7 linked regions of the Homo sapiens genome follow. The protein of the gene in region 2 interacts with the protein of the main gene of each other region in a biochemical or structural test. Each region holds a gene or a part of one and is shown on either strand. Other genes may lie near its edges.

Region 1 (3,500 bases), on a different chromosome or scaffold from region 2:
TGGAGTCTGACCCTGTCGCCCAGGCTGGAGTGCAGTGGCACAATCTTGGCTCACTGCAACCTCCGCCTCCCAGGCTCAAGCAATTCTCCTGCCTCAGCCTCCCAAGCAGCTGGGATTACAGGCGTCCACCACCACATCTGGCTAATTTTTGTATTTTTAGTAGAGATGGGGTTTCACCATGTTGGCCAGGCTGGTCTCAAACTCCTGACCTCAAGTGATCTGTCCACTTTGGCCTCCCAAAGTGCTGGGATTACAGGTGTGAGCCACCATGTGTGGCCCTGAACATGTATTTTCTAAATGATGTTTGCCTCGAAAGGAAGCAATTGTTTGGCAACCTTGTTAATGTGACCTATTACTACTAGACTTCTAAAAAGTGAAATTTGTCAAAAGGACATTTTTTAGTGCAACTGAAGGCAATATCAAGCAGTTTAAATAGTTGTTGATGCTTATGCTATGTACTGTAATTATTTACATATATTTACTATCACAGAATTTATAAATGATACAAAGTTTTTTGAAGACAAGATTTTTGATTCCTTACCAATTTAAAAAATAACAAATACAATTTTAAAGGTGGCAGGAAGGTCTCCAAACAGAAAAGAAAACAAGAACTAATTGTAGGTTCCTTAGAGAGATTTTAAGATTATTCTTGCTGAAATTTTTACTTAAAAAAAAAAAAGGCACCTTTTTCAAAAGCAACTTGATCCCTGCCCCCACCCCTCACCCCTACCCCAACCCAAGTTACAAGACTTCTTCCTACGGGAAGAAAAGCTAGGATAGATTCGCTTTTGGTGTTGTCGGTTGTTTTTTTAACAGATGAGGTCTCACTATGTTACCCAGGCTAGAGTGCAGTGGCTATTCACAGGCACTATCATTGCGCACTACAGCTTTCAACTCCAAGGCTCAAGCCATCCTCTTGCCTCAGCCTCCTGAGGAGCTGAGACTACAGATGCATGCCACAGCACCCAGCTGTTTTTTTTTTTTTAAAGTCCTATGAATTTTTCTGAATCTGTCATGTTTATATGACTTATCTGTGGGCAACCAAAAGAACAAATTAGGAAAAAAAAGAACAAACGAAAAACCTCTTCAAGGTCTAGTTAAGCTTAGTTTACCACTCCCGTACCCCACACCACAACCAAGACCATGTGTCTTTATGGTTGTGATCTAAGAATAGATACACATAATAGTTAAAATGCCTCCCAGTAGTTCCTTGTATCTGTCGATTTAACTGCAGTATTTTCATTAAAGATAAGAGCATCCTGGTCCATGGTATATCAACTGCCTCACAGGGCTGCTGGGAGGATTAAATGAGCTGATTATACGAAGCACTCAGTATGGATTTGAATCATGGAAGCTATAAGGCTGATGTGTGGGAGTTAGTCACTTAGTGAGTAAGAACACACACACACACACACACACACACACACACACACATCCAGCAACTGCAAGTCAATTAGCTGTATTCAAAATTTGGGCTTTCCAAAGATCTCTAGATAAGGGTCTGACATATATCAGTAACTCATATTGCTCCTCAAAGTTCTACTTAAATAACCACTAAATAACCAAAGTTCTATCTGAAAAACTTGCAAACTACTACTTTGGGAATTGAATTTGTATTGGCCTTAAACTAAAAAAAAGAAAACACTTATGCTAATTTTTTTCCTTACATAAGGAAGGTAACTTTATGTCATCTCTGGTGTTAGATATAAAATCACTCTGAAATAAGGAGAAAAGCTTTCATATCTGACTCTTAAATAGAGTCCAAAGTTTTAAAAACAGATCTCAGGTGCTGGGGAAAAAAACAAACACACAAACAAAAACTATAATGACAGTTAAAGAAAAAAGATTTCCCCCACAAGTTATAGGACACATGGACTCACACGCCTCCACCTTTCTAGTCTGCATGTGGCCCACAATATCACTCACCTGAATTTAGGATTTTCAACTGTCACTACTCCAACTTCTATTTCTGAAGGTTTGAAATCAATTGATAGAACAGTAGACAGGCATGTAATTGCAGTCTGAAAAAAAGTATTTAATGTTAAAATATAGTATTTTTTAGAGATTCCAAGGTTTTCTCATTCCTAGCTTATTCAAATCATGAGTCAATCAGGAGCTCCATGTTTCAATGAGGTAGTTCAATGTTACTAACAGACTGCTTAACTCTAATGTATTGCCTCCCAATGATGAGAAATTTTTTTCTACCAAGTCAAATAATAAAGGGGTCCATTAATTAAAATAGGATGATTTATACAAAAAGGTTTATTGGCTTCATGACCCAGGCACTACACTTCACTTAGCACTTGGGGTGAAATGGGAAAAGGATAAAGATGAATGATACTCTCTGCATCTTCAAGGAATTTACAGTAAAAACGATTTAAGAATGTTTTAAGTGTTGTTTGTTTGTTTTGTTTCTGTTTTTTGAGGCAGAGTCTCACTCTGTCGCTCAGTCTGGAGTGCAGTGGCGCCAGCCTGGCTCACTGCAACCTCAGGCTCGTGGATTCAAGCGAGTCTCCTGACTCAGTCTCCTGAGTAGCTGGAATTACAGGCGCCTGCCACCATGCCCGGCTAATTTTTGTATTTTTCATAGAGACAGGGTTTCGCCATGTTGGCCAGGATGGTCTCAAACTCCTGACCTCAGGTGATCTGTCTGCCTCCCAAAGTGCTGGGATTACAGGTGTGAGCCACCTTAAGTGTTTTTTTACCGGATGTGGTTATTTATGTAATTAATTATGAATTGCAATAAAAGAAACCTTTAAGAAATATTTAGACAGGGCCCAGTACTTCCTGAACATGAACTAGCTTTTTATCTCCTTTAAGCATACTTCCAAACCAAACGTAAAAGCATTAGATGGTAATTTTTTTTTGGTCACTTATCAGAAGCATGTTGTTAGCATCTTCAGAATGGCTTTAATTCCAGACTTACACCCAAAATCTACTAAAATTTTTGTTTTTAATTTCTTGGCAGTAAATAGGACTGGCCTCGAACACCTAGACTCAAGCAGTCCTCCAGCTTCAGCCTCTCAAGTAGCTGGGACTACAGGTGTGTGCCACCATGCCCAGCTGGTTCCTATTTTTATTTATATTTTCCTATTATATGCGTTTTGTTGAAAGCCACCTCAAATACATTACGAAATAAGGAATTAAGTGAATAAAAGCAACTCAAATTTTCCTATGTCAGCTGTATGATATCAATTTCATTATTAAGTTGACAACTTGAATCCTGGGATGTAATTCAGGAATAGCTTTGTATAGAAATTATACAAAGATCCTCACTGTTCTATATAGCATAAAAAAAGTCAGCTCCTTTTGGTTGACTTACTTCCACTGTCTGTTCAAATGTCCAATCAAATTTCTTCTTCACTTTTTTTTCAAGGAAGCTGGTTGACTCAGTTTGTTTAACTCCCGCTGCAGTGGCTTTAAACCCACAGTAGTAACCTGCAGGATCACACTTATATACCTGAGGGCCTTGCTCTTCATCTATACCAATTAAAATCATA
Region 2 (3,500 bases):
TTATGAATATAAATGCAAAACTCGAGAAAATACCGGCAAGCTAAACCCAACAACATAGAAAAAGGATTATATACCATGACCAAGTGGGACTCACCCTAAGAACACCAGGGTGGTTCAACATCAGTGCAATACACCATATTAACAGACAAAAAAGCAGTTATTTTGACAGAGTAGAAAAAGCATTTTGACAAAATACAACACTCTTGCATGATACAAAATTCAATAAACTAAGAATAAAAGGGAACCTCTTTAGTCTGATAAAGGACATCTAGTAAAAGCTCACAGCTAACACCATCACTCTTTAACATCACAGTTAAACAGTAAAAGACTGGAAGCTTTCCCAATAAGGGCAGTAACAAGACAAGGATGCTTGTTCTTGCCACAAATTCTAGCCAGAAGAATCAGGCAAAAACAAAGACAAACAAAAAAGAAATAAAAGGCAGCCAAATAAGAAAAGGAAGAAGCAAAACTGCCTGTATTTATAGATGATATGACAGTATATCAAAAAACTCTAAGGAATCCCCCCAAAAACTATTTGAGCTAATAAATTAGAGCTAATAAACATTTAGCAATGTTATAGGAAACAGAATCAAAATACAATAATTAGTTGTACCTTTTTTTTTTTTTTTTTTTGAGACAGAGTCTTGCTCTGTCGCCCAGGCTGGAGTGCAGTGGCGCAATCAGGGCTCACTGCAAGCTGCGCCTCCTGGGTTCACACCATTCTCTCGCCTCAGCCTCCCGAGTAGCTGGGACTACAGGCACCTGCCACCACGCCCGGCTAATTTTGTTTTTGTATTTTTAGTAGAGACTGGGTTTCACCATGTTAGCCAGGATGGTCTCGATCTCCTGACCTCGTGATCCGCCCGCCTCGGGCTCCCAAAGTGCTGGGATTACAGGCGTGAGCCACCACACCCTGCGGTACTTAGTTGTACTTCTATACATTAGCAACGAGCAATCAGAAAGTGGAACAGGCTGGCATGGTGGCTCATGCCTGTGTAATCCCAGCACTTTGGGAGGCCAAGGTGAAAGTGTCACTTGAGCCCAGGAGTTCAAGACCAATCTGGGCAACACAGTGAAACACCATCTCTACAAAAAATACAAAAATTAGCTGAGCATGGTGGCAAGCGCCTGTAGTGCCAGCTACTCAGGAGGCTGAGGAGAGAGGATCATTTGATACCGCAGTGAGCTATGACTGCACCATTGCACTCCAGCCTGAGCAAGAGACCCTGTCTCAAAAAAACAGAAAAAAGTGAAATTAAGAAAACAACTCTGCCAGGCACGGTGGCTCACGCCTATAATCCCAGCACTTTGGGAGGCCGAGGCAGGCAGATCACTTGAGGTCAGGAGTTCAAGACCAGCCTGGTCAACATGGTGAAACCCTGTCTGTACTAAAAATACAAAAAATTAGCCAGGCATGGTGGCGCACGCCTGTAATCCCAGCTACTTGGGAGGCTGAGGTGGGAGAATTGCTGGAACCCAGGAGGCGGAGGTTGCAGTGAGCCAAGATTGCACCACTGCACTCCAGCCTAGGAGACAGAGCAAGACTCCGTCTCAATTAAAAAACTAAAAACCAATTCCATTTATAATAGCATCAAAAAGAATAAACTAGGAATAAATTGAAAGTAGTAGAAGATGCATACACTGAAAACCATGAGACACAGTTGAAAGAAAAGACAACCTAAATAGATGAAAAGACATCCCATGTTCATGGAGTGGGAGACTTAAAATACTGCTGAGATGGCAATACTCCCCAAAGCAATCTATAGATTCAGTGCAATCCTTATCAAAATCTCAACTGCACTTTTTGTAGAAATGGACAAGCTGATCTTGAAATTCATAAGGTAACATAAGGGATCCAGAATAGCCAATATAATCTTGGGGGAAAATAAAACGAAGTTAGGGGTCTCGATTTCAAGATTTACTGCAAAACAACAGTAATCCAGACAGTGTGATACTGGCATAGTAAAGATATACAGATCACTGGAAAATAATTGAGAATCCAGAAATAAACCCATATATACCTATGGCCAACTGACTTTTGACAAGTTTGCCAGCACCAAACAATAGGGAGAGAATAGTCCTTGGCCTCAGACTAGGCAATGATTCCTTAAAAATGACACCAAAACCACAAACAATATAAAGAAAAAATAGATAAAATAGGCTTCATCAAAATTAAAAATGTGTGTATATAAGAAAGTAAGAAGACAACCCACAGAATGGGAAAAAACATTTGTAAATTACATATTTGATAAGGATCTAGTATACAGAATATTAAAAGAATTCTTACGACTCAACAACAAAAAGACAAATAACCCAACTGAAAAATGGGCAAAGAATTTGATCAAACATTTCTCCAAAGAAGATATACAAATGGCAATAAACACAAAAAAGATTCTACACATCATTAGTTGTTAGAGAAATGCAAGTCAAAAACTGCAAGATACTACTTCACATCCACTGGGATGGCTATAATTTTTTTTAAAAATGAAAATAACAAATGTTGGTGAGGATATGGAGAAACTGAAAGTTTCATACACTGTTGGTGAGAATATGAAATGGCACAGCCACTATGGAACAGTCTGGCAGTGCCTCAAAAAATTCAGCTATTACATGACTCAGCAATTCTATACCTAGGTATATACCCAGGAAAATTGAAAACATGTATTCACAGCAGCATTGTTCATAATTGGAAACAACTTAAATGTACATCAACTGATGAACAAATAAAATGTGGTCCATCTATACATTGGATTATTCGACCACAAAAAGAAATGAAGTACCAACACATGCTAGAACATGGGCAAACCTTGCAAACAGTATACACTGAGGGAAAGAAGGCAGGCACAGAAAGTCATGTGTTATATGATTCCATTTATATGAAATGTCTGGAGTAGGCAAATTGATAGCAAATTAATGGTTGTCAGGGGCTGGGAGCTAGCGGGCAGTTACTGCTAATGGGTGCAGGTTTCTTTTTGGGGTGATAAAACACTCTGGAATTGGATAATGGTGGTAGTTCTATAAGCTTGTGAATATACTAAAAACCACTTTGTACACTTTAAAATGACTTTTATGTTATGTCAAATTTTATTATCTAAAATATATCTCAATAAAAAATATGGCTAGCAGGAAAAATAATACTAAAGTGGAAATTTAAGCTTAGTAAGAAAAGCCTAACTGGTTAAATGAATGAGAGAAAAGCATGGATGAGGAGTATGTGTGTGTGTGTTACACGTAGTTTTATTTTTAAGAGACAGGGTCTCTGTCACCCACGCTGGAGTACAGTGGCACGATCATAGCTCACTGCAGCCTCGACCTCCCAGGCTCAAGTGATCCTCCCGCCCCAGCCTCCCAAGAAGCTGGGACTACAGGCATGTGCCACCATGCCTGGCTCAACAATGAGTTTTAACATGAAGCTTTTTGTAGTGCGTATTAAAATCCTGGAATAAGGCCATATTCATATTCATGAGGCAAACATCTATTTCAAATTAAAGATGCCCATA
Region 3 (3,500 bases), on a different chromosome or scaffold from region 2:
AATTCTATAACTTATGAAAATGTTCAAAGACAGGATCCTAAACTGAAAGTGTAGGACTATAAAATGGGTAAAGATTGCACGGGAGCAGTTACAACATTTCTACTTTTGTCCTTTATGAAATTCACTTGGCAATAAAGAAATCATAAAAGGGTTATGTAACTCTATCTTCAAATTTTTAAAGTCAAATATTAAAGTGAAGAAGGGAGAGGAGGCCCTAGAGCTTAGGGCTGCCCAACGAACATACTCCTTCGATAGTAGAATTCTGTATTGAGAGAGGAAAATCCTTATACTCAAACAACCTGTAAATAAATAGGTCTTTGATCATAGACTTTTAAGTCACTCACCAAGAGAATCAAGGAATTTTAATAGGACTGTACTAAGGTTCTTTCTTAGAGAATATAAAACATGGGGTACCTATATATTTGCCCAAGACCACAATATAATTTTTTCAATCCCCAAACTAATTGTTATAGATCAAACAGATTTGATTTAAGGTGAAACCTTACTCCTGAAAATTATGAAGCACAAAATATCAATTAAGATCTTCAAATAGGCCATCAAATTTGTTTTTTAAAAAAATTTCTTACTGTAATGAAGTCATTCCCTTTAACCATTCTTCCTTGGTAAAAAATCCCATGCTTTCAGCCTCCAATTTCCACGCTAAAACTAACATAATAATCTGGAAAGAACAGAACATAAAGGATAGGGGAAAAGTCAGCATAGAGATAATCATGTCTATATTTATCATGGAGAGCATTTTTACACAACTACTTCCATCCTTCAACTATTAAAGAGTACAACCTCTGGAATTATTAACTATATACAAAGAAATTGAGATGTGCCAATTTCTTAAAAGTAAAAAGTTCTAACAGTTTCTGAAGGTAGAATCTCTTATTCTATTACATATAACATTTGTATCAAGAAAGAATACATTTGCCCAACTTAAACTGATTAAAAATACCTTAAATGCAAATTTACAATATTAAACATGAAGAAATAAAATCTTCATACAAGATTAAAGTGTCTCGATTTTTAGTAATTTACGAATATGCTATACCCCACTTATATGCCATTCTACTTAGAAATAAAACATACATTTTCAGGTTCAACACCAATGTCTTCACAAAATTTTTCCATTCCTTCTGGCCCTACAACTTCATCAGGACCTTCAAAGACAAAAATAATTAACATATTTTGTTATAATATCAACATAAAACATAAATCGTCATGCTAAAGGTACCCATGAACACACCATAATATTTTGCAAATAATTAAATTTGAATTTTGGCATAGCTTTGATAAGTATAAATATTTGCTACAGGATTTAAAATTTAAAATTTGTGAAGTATTCTTTGAACACCAGATTACAATATGAAATTAAGAAAATTTAAAAAGCAGCAAAGAAATACTCCATTAGTATCAATCACAAGTTAGTACAAAAACTCAAACCAATCCATTAAAAAAAAAATTCACTGAGAGCCTACTCTGAATAAAATTTTTGACAATGCATGAATATGAAAAAACATAAGGCAGCTGGAGCTTCTTAATCTACTGGAATATCAGAACCAACACAAAGTTCAATACAGTAATCAGAAGGGGAATATATTTACCTATAAAACAGGCCATTTATTACCCTTTTGAAATACACTCAAATATAATTTAATTATTGAAAAAGACAAAGGTATTTTGAAAATAATGACTTATGGAAATTACTACATTCCATTTCCAGAAAGAGCTATTTTCCTTATCATCTTGGTTCTAAAACAGACAGCAAGCATTGATGTCACCTTAATGTAGAAACAGAAGTTTAATCTTTCAATTAGTTAGTGTCTATCATTCATCCAAAAATTAATTACTGGCATTTAACTTGTTCCTTATTTTACACCCTTAGCAACATTAATAAATCAATACATCAATTATCATTTTTTCAAAATGTTATCAGATTCCCAAAATATAGTAATTACATCATCACTAGGTCTCTTTTGTGACTGGATAAGAATAAAACAAATTTTGTAATAATATGAGAAATGTGTTTACCACTATGGGATTTTGAAAATATAATCTTGAGATATTATTCTTAAGAGTCAAGAGAAGCCTCTATTTTCCTTTTTCAAGGATGAAAATCCTCCAGCTTTATAAACCATAGACTAGACCAAGGCTGCTCAGGTAAATTTGACAGCACCATATTTAGGTTACTAGCACAACATAAAGTCAATACATTCTTGCTGCCTGAGATCCAAGCTGCTAAGATGACATTAATACTGGTCTGAAGCCAAAACCCTTTTTAATTTTTTTGTGTAACATGTTAAGTGTTATTAGGTTTAAATAAGTACTAACAATGCACTCGTGTTAAAAGGTGAAGGGGGTGATTAATTATAGGGCACTTTCTCTTCCTTTACATATTTGGAGAATTGTTTAAATGAGAATGTGTTAATTTTATAACTTAAAAGGCATACATATACAATAAAGGTGTTAAAATGCATAAATGAGTATGTATTCTTATATATGATTGAAAGAAAACAAAAATCAGATTTGAAAATTTAAGAGGCCCAGGCGCGGTGGCTCATGCCTGTAATCTTGGCACTTTGGGAGGCCGAGGTGGGATTATCACTTGAGCCCAAGAGTTCCAGACAAACCTGCACAACACAGGGAGACCCCATCTCTAGGGAAAAAAAAAATAGCCTTGTGTGGTGGTGCCAGTCTGTGGTCCCAGCTACTCAGGAGACTGAGGTGGGAGCATTGCTTGAGCCCAGGAGTTTGAGGCTGCAATGAGCCATGATCACGCCATTGTACTCCAGCCTGGGAGAGAGCAAGGCCCTGTCTCAAAAAAAAATAAAAAATAAAAAATTAAGGGAAAAGACAAACGGTTTTTTTAAAAGCCACGATGTAAATATATTGTAAATTTTTCTAAAGCATCAAGAAAACATACTTGCTCTCAAAGTTGCCATTAGTGATTCAAAGAGAAAGCTTTAGAGGATGTCTAGAAACATCAGCATAAGCTAGGAGCAGTGGCTCACGCCTGTAATCTCAGCACTTTGGGAGGCCGAGGCAGATGGATTACGAGGTCAGGATTTCAAGACCAGCCTGGCCAAGATGGTGAAACCCTGTCTCTACTAAAACTACAAAAATTAGCCAGACGTGGTGGCAGGTGCCTGTAATCCCAGCTACGCAGGAGGCTGAGGCAGGAGAATCACTTAACCTAGGTGGCAGAGGTTGCAGTGAGCCGAGATTGCGCCACTGCACTCCAGCGTAGGTGACAGAGCGAGACTCTGTCTCAAAAAATATAAAAAATAAAAAAGAAATATCAGTATAGCCCCCCTAGAAACTGGAGGATTACTTGGTGATTACTAATTAAAATTTGGTTAGAAGCAAGTCAAATGAGATTACATAGAGATATAATACCTTATAACTTAGATAAGGTCTGTAAATGTTAACTGACTTTGCCAAAGTGATGTAAATAGTAACAGATCTAAGTCTAAAGCGAGGTCTGTAACTAATGT
Region 4 (3,269 bases), on a different chromosome or scaffold from region 2:
TGTCAGAATAACTGATATTACCACTTTCAGTGTGGTCCAGAGGGCACACTGTCTTTCATGTACACTGCATAAACGTTTCCACTGGACAGCAGGCGTTTCTCCCACAGAAGCGCTCTTCTGAAAAGTCCTGCATCAACACCTGCACCACCAGCTGGGGAACTCCAGGGAGCCCGAACAACTACTATGGGATGTGCCCTGACTTGGGCCTGGGACTGGCACCAAGCAGAGAACCTCATTTCCTGGGTCAGAGGGGGCAGGAATTAGCTGCTGGCCTCCTGCCCTGCCTAGAGAGGAAGCCTAGTGCTCAGCTGGCAAGTTCCTCTGACACTAGGCAGAGGAAAAGTGTGAAGCTGCAGTACCTCCCTCTCCCAGGCCCTGAGAGGTGGGGATTAATGTGTCTCCTGGACAAGCCCTGAGCTCCTGAGATGCCATCATTCTCTTTAACCAATCTCACCCTTCCTGCTCTGTGTGGCCTGTTAGCCAGGGGCCACCCTCAAGTCTAATGGGTGCAAAGAGGAAGCAAGGCCTACATTCCTCACCTGCTGGGTCTCCGTGACAGACTGATCTCACAATCAGAGATTCTATAAATTAAGAAAAACAAACTAAACCCAGTAGATGGCAGATGGGGGAATCCAGAGGTCTAAGGAAGCTGGCAGTTAAGTTTGAGAGTGTTAGGCAGGCAGCAAATGAAACTAGACAGACATTTATTTTGTGTTTGATTTCACTGGTTCAAATGTCTACATGCTGGAGTAAATCCACTTGCCTCTCTTCAGGGCTTTTCCTCTGCAGTATATTAACCTGGCCGAGGATGGCATATGCCACTGTTGACTCCTGGTCCTCCAAGGCCTAGGAGGCTCACCCCACCGGCAGGGCCTGGAGCCATAGCAAACTCAGAAGAAGGCCACAGGTACAGTCTCAGTGACATCAGACATTGGGCTGATTCCTGAGGCATCGCTCCTGTCTCCCAGGACAGCAGGGTCTGGCTCTCTGATAAGTAGCTACCAGGTCACAATCACATGACCACTGCAAAAGCATCAACCCCAGCTGGTCCAGGCTCCAGCCAGTTTCCTCTGGGCAGCATGTTAGAATGGGCTCCCTGCCTTTTTGTTTTGATCATCCAAATCTAGCTTCAAAGGGCTCCAAAATGTGCTCACCACATCCGGACCCGAAAGCAAGAGCTGATTTTTAAGAGTGAGATTCTCATTGCATTTGGACAAAATGAATAATGTGCCTTTCATATTTTCTTTGTATTTCTCTTCAATAGTTGCTTGACCCAACATCTTTCTGTCTGCTCTATACAATGAAAATACAAACTAAATGAGAATAGAAAAAATAATTAAAGCATTGAATTGTACAAATTACAAATCTGTTCCAAAATATACTTACATTAAATAAAATACGCATTTCAATAAGAGATCTACAGTGAATGACTCTATGCATTCTGGGAGGCTTCACAACATCTAGGCAGGGCCAACATTCGTGAAAGAAGCTAAGAGATTTTGCATCCAATCACAGTTTGTAGCGGGTATCTTATTGCCAATCTGCGAGTTACACTGAACACATCATTAGCATCGCTTGTGCAGAAAACCAATTTTGTTTGGGAAAAGGGAAAGCAAGCTCTGGCCTCAATTTTGAGTTCATTACAACTTCTTAAGAATTTCACCAACAGCCTATACAGTACAAGTTCAAAAAAGTAAACATGTTAAGGTAAGCAGACAACTCTTCAGAAGCCCAAACACATTTTCTTGCTGTATTTATGTTGAATTCTCCATCTACAATGAGCAGTCATGAAGATGGTCTTCTTCAGGGCAACATGGTCACAGGACTGGGGCAATCCAGGGGACTGAGAGGGAGCATGAGGACGGGAGAGGGGGCTACCTCTTGCTGTTTCATGTTAGAGACAAACTGTAACACAGTCCATGGGCCTGCAATCGTCCCCTTTTATCATCTGGCATAACGTTTGATGTAGTCATCCACTTTATTCCGGAAGTCCTCCTGTGGAGTAACAGCATTGGGGACAGAAAGAAGAACAGGAGGAGTGAGTGAGTGAGTGAAGCAGCGCTTCAGGGACAAGTCAGATCCACCAGCACCAAGGTCCCCTGTGGTCGCCAAGGTGGTAGAAGGACTGGGACCTTGCGGAGTCTGAGTGCCATTTCGCCACGACCTGGGTGCCTACTGCACGCAAGACACAGTGCTGGGTATGTTGAGGGGGGAGCACGTGGAAGGCCTGAGTGGAAGGGACCCTAAGGGGGTACCTATCCCTTCTCATTTTCCAGATGGGGAAAGTGGAGCCCAGAAAAGTGTGGTCGAGGTCACAAAGCCAAGACTCCTTTGGCCACAATGGATGTGAGCCACAGCTGCTGCTCTCAGGAAGACCCTTGTTTCTGGATTTGTCTTCCTAGAATGATTTCCCTGGATGCTGCTACCTACTTAAAATGTGCCTGCTCTTCACAGCCCATGTACAGGCCCCCATCTCTTCTGGGCAGGATGACCACCCTGCCCAGAAGAGAGCTGGGTGTGCCACAGAGCTCCATCCTCATGCATTGAAATGAAGGTGGACAGTGACCAAAGGCGGTGTGGACCTAGGAATCACCCCAGGCCAGTATGGGTGGAACAATCTTCTCGGATCTGGGCCACTGTCAGGTTTGTCCCTGGATCTGGTCTCCCCAAGGTTAGGAGTAAAATCCCATGGGACTGTATGAGCCGTAAGAATGACTTGGAGCTCTTAACCCTCTCACTCCTACAACACAGCTGCTGGGTCTCAGATGTCCCTGCAGGATCACACTGCTTCGGTCCCATCAATGCCATGCAGCCCCCACTGCCCAGGGAACACAGCACAGTTACCATAGTTCTTAGTGGGCATGAGCTCCATTTCCTTAGCTAAGCCTCAGTCCTCCTGTCTAAGCCTCAGTCTAACCTGTTTGCTGATTCCACTGCATAATCCCGACACCTGGCAATGTGCAGGGTATAACCTGGCACTCGATGTATACCTCGCTGCTGCCGCGATGCCCTCTTGCAGGGAGATCCTGCCTGGAGCATGGTCCTGGCCAGCTGGGCACCAGGTGCCTGCCCTCCTGCCACACTTTTAGTTAGCACAGCGACCCTTTCCAGGGCGGGCAAGTTCCCAATTTGAAGCTATGGATACGGTCCCATGACTTGCTCTGGTCTCAGGGTGAGAAAGTGGAGTGCTCTGAGTCTACCCAGGTGCCTCTGCCCTGCCAACCGCCCTATTTGTCTACAGGATGGCGTTTGGAGCCTCCCACATGGGC
Region 5 (2,583 bases), about 19 Mb from region 2:
CTTCAGTACAAAAGTATAAAACAAAACAATCTCAGTGACGAAAAACATGGCATATCAGAGAATAATCACTTTCTAGCCTTTGCTAGGTCATGGTTACTTTATCAGTGGGCAGTTCAGGGTCCACCTTCTCTACCACAAAAACTGATGATCCCCCAAAAGCAACGAGTCTTGGGGAAGCCCAACTGGGGGACTCATGCATTCAATGGCACATGGAGAGGGGTCTCTTCTGAAGTGCCTTCCTCCCCATTACATTGTTTTATTCTGTTATTATCAAAGCAAGGAGAAAATTATCAGTTGACCATTCACTATAACACACCAGGAAATTTCCTGGTGGCATAATGAAAATCATCTTGCTTTTGGTTTAGGAAAGATTATACCTCCTTGACTGGAATCACAAATTTTAGGCTTTGCAGCCAATCTGAAAATCAAAAGTTGAATGTTCCACTGAAGTTTCTCCGGCCCACAGGGCAAGGGGGAAAACAGTTCTCCAACAATGAGAATCTTAGCAAATATTTTATTAATACACACTGTCATAGTCCTAGGATAGAAGAGTCCTCAGAACACTGCTCCACATTGAAGATGCTGAAATGGGTGGTCAGGTCCTTAGTCTTCCTTCTAGTCTGTTAATCCCACACTCCTTTAACAGAACCATGCTTGCTGCCCTTACCCTGTCCACATCCCTGAAAGGAAACGGGTCTCTCTCAGCCAGATGCAGATAGTTGACACTCACTGCCTTTGCTATGGCAGGGGGCTCCTTATGATTAACCCAGAACAGGAAAAACTTAGTGTCAGCTGACCGAAAGGAACTCAGCCTTAATTTTTCAAAAAGTCACTCTCATTCCAGCTATCTCCAGGAAGGCGCTGGAGTATCTTCAGCATGAGCACAGAGATTCCCACTGCCGAAATATTCGGAATACTTTCCTTGATTTCTCAGAGAGACTCTGTAGGTAGAAAAGCTTATTATTAGTGATTACGTTCTTTTATAGAGACAAAGGATAGATCATTTGTCCCACAATGATCTGGATATGTCTAGGACTAAGTAAAAATTCATTTTGTAGTATGCTATACATAATGTATACCTAAAGTCAGACTAAAGATCGAGGGGCCAACGTTCTACTGTCAGACTCCTGTTAACACACTCTGAGCCTCTAAGACACGGCTCATATCCTCCCTTCAGGCATCTGTATCTGTCCTCATCTTTGTACTTGAGGATGACACTTCTGACTTGCCGTTAGTACAGCACATGTTTTGCACTGGTTTTTCTTTTTTTTTTTTTTTTTGAGACGGAGTCTCACTCTGTCACCCAGGCTGGAGTGCAGTGGCGCAATCTCGGCTCACTGCAAGCTCTGCCTCCCGGGTTCACGCCATTCTCCTGCCTCACCCAGTAGCTGGGACTACAGGCACCCGCCACCACTCCTGGCTAATTTTTTGTATTTTTAGTAGAGATGGGGGTCTCACCGTGTTAGCCAGGATGGTCTTGATCTCCTGACCTCGTGATCCGCCTGCCTCGGCCTCCCAAAGTGCTGGGATTACAGGCGTGAGCCACCACGCCCGGCCTGCACTGGTTTTTCATTCATGATGCTGAATTGGCCCTAGTTCATTATTTATTGTGAATAAGTACTTATACTTAATGTGATGCCTAGCTGAGGTTAACAGTATAAACCAAGGACAACTAATAAAAACAGAGTTGAATGACCCCTATGAGTTTAAGCTCTGGCCTTGGTCTTCACCGCTTTTATGTTTTAGCCAGCAGTGCTAATAATAGGAAGAATCGCAGTGCCATCTGATCATGCCAATGAAGTACTCTGAGATTCTGAGAAATGGTGGTAAAGGGAGACAAAGTAATTCATTAGGAGACAAAAGCTCTTGGTGAATCAGAACACTTGGTTCTGTCTGCCTTTGAGAGTCACAATGAAGAGCAAGTATTCCACGCAGAAAGGGTCTCAGTGAGAGTACAAAGAATGTCTAGCAAGATGATCCACAGTTACCTCCAGTTTCTCATATGACGCTTTCACAGGTTTTTTTTTTTTTTTTTTTTTTTTTTGAGACAGGTCTCGCTCTGTCGCCAGGCTGGAGTGCTGTGGTGCCATTTCAGCTCACTGCAACCTCTTGACTCCCTGGTTCAAGCGATTCTCCTGCCTCAGCCTCCTGAGTAGCTGGGATTACAGGCATATGCCACCACGCCCAGCTAATTTTTGTATTTTTAGTAGAGATGGAGTTTCACCATGTTGGCCAGGATGGTCTTGATCTCCTGACCTCATGATCTGCCTGCCTCGGCCTCCCAAAGTGCTGGGATTACAGGCGTGAGCCACTGCGCCCGGCCCACTTTCACAGTTTTTTAAAAATCTATCCTCTTTGAGGATGTTTCAATAAGTTCCAGGAGGAAAAAGTTTGAACTCTTACTAATGACTGAGGGAAATTTAGTTAATAGAGTGACAAAGTTGAAAGAAACCTGAGTTGAAAAAATAGTATACACTTTTTTCTTTTTTTTTTTTTTTTGAAAGGGAGTCTCACTCTGTTGCCCACGCTGGAGTGTAGTAGTGCGATCTCGGCTCACTGCAACCTCCACCTCCCAATTCTCCT
Region 6 (3,500 bases), on a different chromosome or scaffold from region 2:
GGACTTAAGGAACATTTCTTGTGGGAAAATCTTCAATTTTCAAAAAAAGAATGCTTGGCTAAGAATTTTTTTTTAATAACAAAACAAGTAACCACTTTCTGACATTACAGTATATTTATAGTAAGGTTTTCTTTGATTGACGTGAGTTATGCTTATCGTGATGGTTTTGGAGGGAACAAAAAATATTAATTTCTACCATATATTCCTTAAAGACTTGGGCATTTGTTTTATGTGGCAAGATTCACTGTTTCACTACTTTCTGGGAGACAGAAATATAAATTCATGTTTTATATATAAGTATGTAAGATGTATATTTAAACACACACAGACAACCTGCGTCGGCCTTCATTGTTTACACACTTCTTAATCTCATTGTCCTGTGATGACTGAGGCAACAGTTCAAAGATAGCTTTATATACTATGGGTCAAACAACTCAGCATTCTTTAAAGCATCATCTTTACATGTACAAAATAATACTAAAAATGAATAGCCCATGAACCAACCTACCATTCATTACCCAAGTCACTCACTATGGGGATAGGATAGGACTGAATTACATAAAGGATGGATAATACGACTTTGTATTAAAAGACTAGCTGGGTACACGGTTGGCATTCAAATGCTTGCTCATTAGATTAGTGATCGAGGAGAAGGGTACTCAAGATTTAAACACTTCTAAGACATTTGTCTGGGGTTAAGAAAGTGAATTTTGAAATTGAATTTTGAAACTAGTATCAAGAGCAATGTACTTCAAAACAAAAAATTAGAAACAAAAATGTAAATTAGCCTAACAGAACCAAGCTAGGCGGAGTAAACTCCAATGCATTTGTATACTAAATGGCAGCCAAGCACAAATCCCACACTTGAAAAATTATCAGCTTTTTCCTCTACAGAACACTAATTTTTTTTCCAGTAGAAGAAACCTAAGGCAGAGAACTGTGGATGCTGTACTACAGTACTCAATACTCTAAAATAAACTCAAAGAGAAAAAGGAAATAACAGGCAAACATTCTGGGAAAAAAAAAAAAAGACTCAATGGAGAAAAAGATGAAACAAAGCCTGTAAGTAGGTCACCTCATTGCTTTTGCTAATGCCAAAGTACCAATCCTTATCATTTTTATTACCAAGAGTTACTGAAGGAAAACACCAACCTTTGTGTTGGCTGCAATCCAATTGGAGGTTTCACTGTCATCATCACACTTTTTAATCCATTTCTTTAACCACTGTTTGAAAATAACAACGGTTAGGATACAACAAAAGACTTTTAAAAATAGCAAATTACTTTAGCACTTAACTATAGTCAAGCTTAAATGTAAAAGCCAATGAATAAGATTATCACTAGGCTCACATCCTCTTAAGCCAGGGAAATCCCATAGCTACAATGTCCAGTATATATAAAATCAACCAAAGCAGGATTTTCTTTGGCAGAAGCTGAGTGGGGAACCTAGAGCTTGAAGAGAAGCCCAACTGCAAGGTGTGTATTCCCCTAATTACAAAGCCTGACAAAGAGGTGCCTTAGCCATGGTTATCCTAATAACAATCAGGAGCTGACTTGGCTTATCCTAAGGAATTACCTCTGAATACATGTAATGATCATCTGAAATTAAAAGGATAAAAAAAAATCTATCAATAGATAGATAACAAAATCATCAGCTATGATTTTTAGTCACTAAGTCTTAGAAGTGTGCCATTATTTAAAAATTGAAATGTCAGACAAACTCACCTTACATTTAACAGGATCATGCCAATTTTCTCCACAGTTAAAGCTGTTAAGTGACACAAAGAGTTAATAGAATTAAGGCCTACCTACTGTAAGCAAGTAAATAAGCCAATCATTTCATGCCTTATAGTTCCACAGTATTGTCACTAGTTTCTAGTGACTGGCAAATACAAGGAGAGAACCCATGTCTGCTTTACAGTTAATTACCTAGAATTTAGTAGTAGAACTAGCACATAGTGGGTACTCAATATGTGTGAAGAATGACTATAAGCATGAAGACACGCTTTGATGACAATTTCATAATAATTGTTGCTAAGGTGCCTCAGACTATATTGAGAAGTTTCAACCCATGCTTCATCAGTGCATTTTTAATCTTTTACTTAACACCCTAAATGAAGAATAAAAGGCTGACTTTGTAGGTTACTTATATAATTTAGTACTAATACACAGTAAACAATATATGGGAAGCAAATAGGTCACATCTTTGCATTATTTAAACAAATGAACCTCCGCCCTGTAGAGGGAAATGGTACTGGGCAAGGTATAAAACAAAAAGACTAAATACTCACTAAACATGTGTTAATCAGTAATTCACTTTTGTTTTCTAAGTTCATGACATATACACTTGTAAAAGAAGTATAATTAACAAACACAAATGCTTAAGAAAAAAATAATAAAATGACAGATTAATTAGCTAATTAAGTAATTTACGAATGGCAAAAAGTCCTTTGCTAAAGACAGAAACAAACTACTATTGATTTAAATCAGGTTAAGATAAATGGTTATTTCTGAAAAGAAAGATGGGGAATGGGAAGGAGCAGGGAACCAAGGAGCTTCAAATATATGTGTCATGTTTTATCTCTTAATGAAGAAAAACAAAATACTAATTTTGATTTAACTGGATTGTAGCTATATAGGTATTCACTGCTGTATTCTCTATACTTTTATGTTTGAAATGTGTCACGCTAAAAATACATTGGAAAGTAGGTATTATCCACCTTTTCTCTAAAATAACAATACATAATTAATCTTTATCGAAACAGTATGTATTTTACACATACTTAATCTCTGTGAGCTTACCTGCTCTTTTTGGAAATATTTATTATTAATGATGTGTTAAGTGTAATTCTATAGATGTTTGGAGGAAAAAAAGAAAGGTATGGAATACCAATAAAATATTTCCCCCTCCAAACCACCCCGCAGCAAAAAAGAAAATCTGGCTGGCCATGGTGCTTCTCACCTGTAATCCCAGCACTTAGGGAGGGCCGAGGCAGGTGGATTACTTGAGGCCAGGAGTTCAAGACCAGCCTGGCCAACAAGGTGAAATGCTGTCTCTATTAAAAATAAATACATAAATAAATAAACAAATAAATAAATAAATAAAAATTAGCCAGGCGTGGTGGCACACGCCTGTAATCCCAGCTACTCAAGAGGCACAAGAATCACTTGAACCTGAGAAGCAAAGGTTACAGTGCGAGATCGTGCCACTGCACTCCAGCCTGGGTGATGGAGTGAGACCCTCTCTCAAAACAAAACAAAACAAAAAATCTATTTGCTGGGTCTAGAGCCCCTTGACTTGATTGGCTTCTTACTCCTCAAGACCCTCAAAGGAACAGAAAATCATCTTAACTTCTAGCAGGATATAAATGTTTGTGTCCCCCTAAAATGTGTATGTTAAAACTTAATAACCAATGTGACAGTATTAGGATGTGGAGCCTTTAGGAGGTGAATGGAATTGGCATCCTTTTTAAAAAAAAAAGGGGCCCAGAGAGCTGCCTT
Region 7 (4,194 bases), on a different chromosome or scaffold from region 2:
TATTTTTATATTACCAAGAGTTTCCTGGATATTTCACCACACGATTAAGTAAAATATGACAGATAGATATAAATGATCTCCACAAGAACACCACACACATTGCCCAATTTTTCACTCATCATGAAAAGAACCATCAAACAATCAAGTATCCAAGTTCAGTATGTTTGTAACCACACCAAAAGGTTTACAAATCTTAGGACTTCTTGGTAATATTTTTATCATCAGAAAAATTACAATATTCTTCTAATGACTATGTTGCAAGTAGTTTCATAATACCTTATATATTACATACAAAAATCTATCATCTCTGCATTAATCTTAGCCTTCTACATTACAGATTCTGGAGTCCCTTCCCTGTAAACAGTAAAGGGAACTGGTGAAGGATGTGACGTTTAGGGAGTCTACTTATGGAGAGGAAGGTTTCTAGTATTAAGGAGAGAAGGAATTGCAGCCTGCAGCTAATAATAAAACAAGCAAACAAAAAAAGTCTTATGGTTCTCCACTTTTTACAGTTTTCTTCTATTCTCATTTGCTTTCCAAGCTTCTTCGAAAATTGAAGACGTCACATATTACCTTTGCTCACCTTCACATTTCCACCCTAAATTCCACTAACCCACCTCCATCACTCATTTCAAGACAGTTATTTTTTCAAACACCCCAAGAAATACCAACACATAGTTTATATTATCGTTACAAGGGTTACGTGTACCTCCACTGTGTTCTCATATTTATGCAAGGGAATGCTGGAACCCAGTGCTTACACACACTGGATGCCAAAATTAAATACACCATTCTAAAGGCTGCTTTACATTGTGTTGCTTCTTAAATGTTTTCCCACAACCCGTGCGCATGATGGTACAAGACCAAGCATTTATTCCACAAGTAAGGCCACAAAATGCAGGGGGAAATTCACTTGGGGACCAAGAACCTAAGCGTGAAGAGGGCTGCGCCTGGCGTGGGCTCTCCCTCTCCCAAGGGAGAAGGGCTGGGGAGTCGCTCCGTCCCTGGGAACTCAACCGCCTCCCGAGAGCGCGCAGGAGCTGGCCGGGGAATAAAGCACGAGTTGGCCGAGCAGGAAGGCTCCAAGGGCGCGCTGCATGCCGGGACCCGTTTCCACAGTTACCCACGTGCACCCAACCCAACCGCGGCCGGGCGCGGCCGCGACTACAAGTCCCAGAATTCGGCGGGACCGCCTTTCCCCTTCATACCCGTTGACTGGAGACAAACCCTAAAGGAAACCCCTCAAGCGCCCTCCCAGCACGCCTGGGAGAAGTCGCGCCCCCCGGGCGTGGGGCGCGGCCTAGGGCCCGGCCATCCCTCTAAGGAAGCGGGTTCCATGGCACCAACCCCCACACCTGATAGCCAGAAATTAGACAACTGCGTCACAGACTATCAAACCCACGGACTGCCAGGGACCCCGACACCTCCCCGGCGCCAAGCCCCCGACCCGGCCATCAGGGCCCGACCCCTCCGGCTCCCGCTGCTGAAACCCCGCAGCCCGCACCCCTGCCCCGCCTCCTAGTCCCGCTGCCGGAGCCCGCGCCAGCGCTGACCTCGCTTCCCGCCGTCCGGGGGGAACCACGGCCAGTTCCAACCTTAGGGCACTTACCCCGTCTCCTCCACCTCAGCCCCGCCCCCTCCTCTCTCCGCACCCCGAAGCTTGGACTCCCCCCTTCAAGGGACCCTGCCTCGACAGGGAGAGGAAGTACCTCCCCTAAGCACAGTCTGACACCCCCTTAGCCCGGCTCCGGACCGAATCTGGACGTGACAGTCCTCCTGCCCAACTCCGCCCCACCTCCCCTTCCTCCCCGACTAGCTCCTCACCCCCATTTCATATTCTCCACCCCTGCCCCCACTCTGCCACCCCAAATCCTACCCACCTTTTTCTCCTCTTCCTCCCAATCGCCCTACCCTTCCACACCTGCCCCATCTCTTTACCCCAACATCTTCCACTCCCACCACTCTCCGTTACCCACCGCCCTTCCAACGCCCCTCCCGCCCCGCAGGACTCCCCAACTACCATTACACCCCAGTCCCTCCCACCACCTCGCTTTCCCGTTACATCAGCCCTCGTCCAGTCGCCCGCCCTCCTGCCCCGCTCGGCCGCTGCCCCCATTCCCCCACCCCATTGTTCGCCGCCCCCCCCCCACCCCCCCGCCAACCAGCCCTTCTTCCCATTGTCCCCGCCCCCGCGCCCCCCTCGCACTCACCCGCCTTTCTCACGGAGCCGCCCGCACCACTCAGCCCTTTGGAAATCCTCACCCTTGTGCCCCGCTCGCTCGCTCGCTCCCTCCCTCTCCCCGCCGGTGCCACCCCCCCACATCCCCGGCCCTGCCCGCTACAGCCCAACGCTGCCTCCACCTCCATGCACCCCGGACACTCCGATCTCGGCCCTTCATCGCACGTCCAGCCCTCCCTTCCCCCAACACTGAAAGAGAGCCAGTCCCCACCCCCCTCACCTCCGCCCTCCCCGCAGGCCGGTCCCTTCCCCCCACGCCCGCCCCCGCCCCACGCCGCCCGCAGCGTCACCGCCCGCCCCGGCCCCGGGAGGGGAAGGGGTGGTTCCCAGGCAGGGGCTCCCGGCGCGTTTCGGGACCCGAGGCGTGGGGCGGGGACTGCGGGAGCCGAGTGGCGAGTTTGGCAGCCGCCCGGCCCCGGCCCGCTGGCTGGCTCTCTGCTACTCACTGACAGCGGCGGCATCCGAGTGCATTTTCAGGCAGCTCACACCCGGCTCGCCGCCCAGGCTCCCGCGCTCGCCTCGCGGTCCCCCCACCAGCTCACTGCACCTCGGCTCGAAGCTGAGGACCCGCCGCCGGGCACTCCCAGCCCGCCCATCTCGCCTTCTCCATTGGCTAAACCGCGGCTCAGGGGCCGCCCTGCTGCGTCTCTCATTTGACAAAAGGAGTGCCCATAGCGCCGGTCTGGAGCTGGCAACGAGGCCCCGCCCCCCACTGGCCAATACGATTGGTCCTGGGGCCTTGTCTCCGTAACGCCCCTGGCGGAGGCCATGCTCCGGAGCAGCGGGTTGGGCCCGGCTGCTGTCAGTCACCCCCAGGGGTCCGAGAGCGCGTGTAGGGGCGAAGCTGGGAAATTGGTCCACCTTGACCCTGAAACCCCGCCCAGTGGCGGGCGGGATTGGTGGAGCTGGAGACCCACCAAGAAAGATGGGTCGGCGTCTGAAACAAAGCACGCGAAGTGTTTCCCAAAGAATAGAGCAGCGCAGCGCAGTTGGGGGCGGCTCGTACCAGCTGCTGGAAGTAGGGAAATGCGTCCGTCCCTAGCGCCCGGCGCGACGCGGCCGGGTCTCCCGCCACTTGTCCCACGACACTTGTCCAGTTCGCGCCGAACTCGGACTGGGACTTCTCTTGTCAGCTGCTTCCTACCGCAGGAAACTGGATTAAGAATTGCCGCGTCTTAATTTCCAGCAAACCTTCTGGTGGGGAGCAAATTTCCATTTCTCCTACGAAGATCCATCCTCTCCCCACTTTCGAAATGTACTTCTTTTCCAGAGTCCGCATACTTGTTTCGCAGAGTTCGCACACTTCTTTCCTCTAGTCACTAATGTCTGTTAAAGAGGCTTCGAATGCCACGAGCATTGTCCGTCACACACATCTGTATGCCCCAGACATCAGACAGAAATACAGGGCCGCGCTCTGAGCTGCGGACTGAGCCTAACACATGGACGAGTCCAGGGGGCAGACCACCAGCCCGTGAAAGACCCCCGGCGGCATCTAAGAAAACCTGTCACTCCCGCGGAGAGGCCGTCCAGAAATTGAAACTGGCTGTTATTTGGCAGAGGGAGACGTTAATTTTGGTGAATTCTTCTGACCCTAAGTCAAGAATTCGCACCATTTCCATGAGTCCTGCCCTGATTTTTCAATACTTGAAGCTAACTTATCACACCGCATTATGGTAACAGAACAATATTTCGAGATATTAACGGAGGATTCCCCCCACCCCAACCCACCCCCACCCTACCCTGCCTCCACCCTCATCCCAGCCACCAACTCCAACAACAACACACCTACAAGGCATCCCCATATCCTAAGGCCCTGGGCCATCTGGGAGCCTCAAAGAGTAGGTGACACCACAAATCACAGGTAACAGAACGCACGGTCTTTTTGGTTTTAGATTTCTACAGCCCAGGCTTTTGGGTTTCCAGGCTCTGAAATTTAGATTTTAAATCAGGACACA

Evidence for each region.
Region 1: the proteins of CUL1 (region 2) and PSMA6 form a complex in vitro, tested with the Homo sapiens proteins (one study listed by BioGRID).
Region 3: the proteins of CUL1 (region 2) and DCUN1D5 form a complex in vitro, tested with the Homo sapiens proteins (one study listed by BioGRID).
Region 4: of the proteins of CUL1 (region 2) and UBE2F, one has a biochemical effect on the other in vitro, tested with the Homo sapiens proteins (one study listed by BioGRID).
Region 5: the proteins of CUL1 (region 2) and ZC3HC1 form a complex in vitro, tested with the Homo sapiens proteins (one study listed by BioGRID).
Region 6: the proteins of CUL1 (region 2) and ARIH1 form a complex in vitro, tested with the Homo sapiens proteins (one study listed by BioGRID).
Region 7: the proteins of CUL1 (region 2) and DCUN1D4 are reported together in a solved structure, tested with the Homo sapiens proteins (2 studies listed by BioGRID, with this or other methods).

Annotation. Positions count from the first base shown.
Region 1 is NC_000014.9:35,312,882-35,316,381, reverse strand, and holds part of PSMA6 (proteasome subunit alpha type-6), read right to left. Parts: coding exon 3,323-3,500; intron 2,022-3,322; coding exon 1,927-2,021; intron 1-1,926. UniProt on the Homo sapiens protein: Component of the 20S core proteasome complex involved in the proteolytic degradation of most intracellular proteins. This complex plays numerous essential roles within the cell by associating with different regulatory particles.
Region 2 is NC_000007.14:148,792,903-148,796,402, reverse strand, and holds part of CUL1 (cullin-1), read right to left. Parts: intron 1-3,500. UniProt on the Homo sapiens protein: Core component of multiple cullin-RING-based SCF (SKP1-CUL1-F-box protein) E3 ubiquitin-protein ligase complexes, which mediate the ubiquitination of proteins involved in cell cycle progression, signal transduction and transcription.
Region 3 is NC_000011.10:103,082,161-103,085,660, forward strand, and holds part of DCUN1D5 (DCN1-like protein 5), read right to left. Parts: intron 1,167-3,500; coding exon 1,096-1,166; intron 680-1,095; coding exon 588-679; intron 1-587. UniProt on the Homo sapiens protein: Contributes to the neddylation of all cullins by transferring NEDD8 from N-terminally acetylated NEDD8-conjugating E2s enzyme to different cullin C-terminal domain-RBX complexes which is necessary for the activation of cullin-RING E3 ubiquitin ligases (CRLs).
Region 4 is NC_000002.12:238,040,014-238,043,282, reverse strand, and holds the end of UBE2F (NEDD8-conjugating enzyme UBE2F), read right to left. Parts: intron 1,996-3,269; coding exon 1,945-1,995; 3' UTR 501-1,944; downstream 1-500. UniProt on the Homo sapiens protein: Accepts the ubiquitin-like protein NEDD8 from the UBA3-NAE1 E1 complex and catalyzes its covalent attachment to other proteins. Together with the E3 ubiquitin ligase RNF7/RBX2, specifically neddylates cullin-5 (CUL5).
Region 5 is NC_000007.14:130,017,792-130,020,374, forward strand, and holds the end of ZC3HC1 (zinc finger C3HC-type protein 1), read right to left. Parts: intron 942-2,583; coding exon 873-941; 3' UTR 501-872; downstream 1-500. UniProt on the Homo sapiens protein: Required for proper positioning of a substantial amount of TPR at the nuclear basket (NB) through interaction with TPR.
Region 6 is NC_000015.10:72,564,830-72,568,329, reverse strand, and holds part of ARIH1 (E3 ubiquitin-protein ligase ARIH1), read right to left. Parts: intron 1,768-3,500; coding exon 1,725-1,767; intron 1,225-1,724; coding exon 1,153-1,224; intron 1-1,152. UniProt on the Homo sapiens protein: E3 ubiquitin-protein ligase, which catalyzes ubiquitination of target proteins together with ubiquitin-conjugating enzyme E2 UBE2L3.
Region 7 is NC_000004.12:51,841,759-51,845,952, reverse strand, and holds the start of DCUN1D4 (DCN1-like protein 4), read right to left. Parts: upstream 2,801-4,194; 5' UTR 2,711-2,800; coding exon 2,686-2,710; intron 2,382-2,685; exon of another isoform or gene 2,368-2,381; coding exon of another isoform or gene 2,211-2,367; intron 1,953-2,210; exon of another isoform or gene 1,881-1,952; intron 1,710-1,880; exon of another isoform or gene 1,610-1,709; intron 1,582-1,609; exon of another isoform or gene 1,554-1,581; intron 1-1,553. UniProt on the Homo sapiens protein: Contributes to the neddylation of all cullins by transferring NEDD8 from N-terminally acetylated NEDD8-conjugating E2s enzyme to different cullin C-terminal domain-RBX complexes which are necessary for the activation of cullin-RING E3 ubiquitin ligases (CRLs).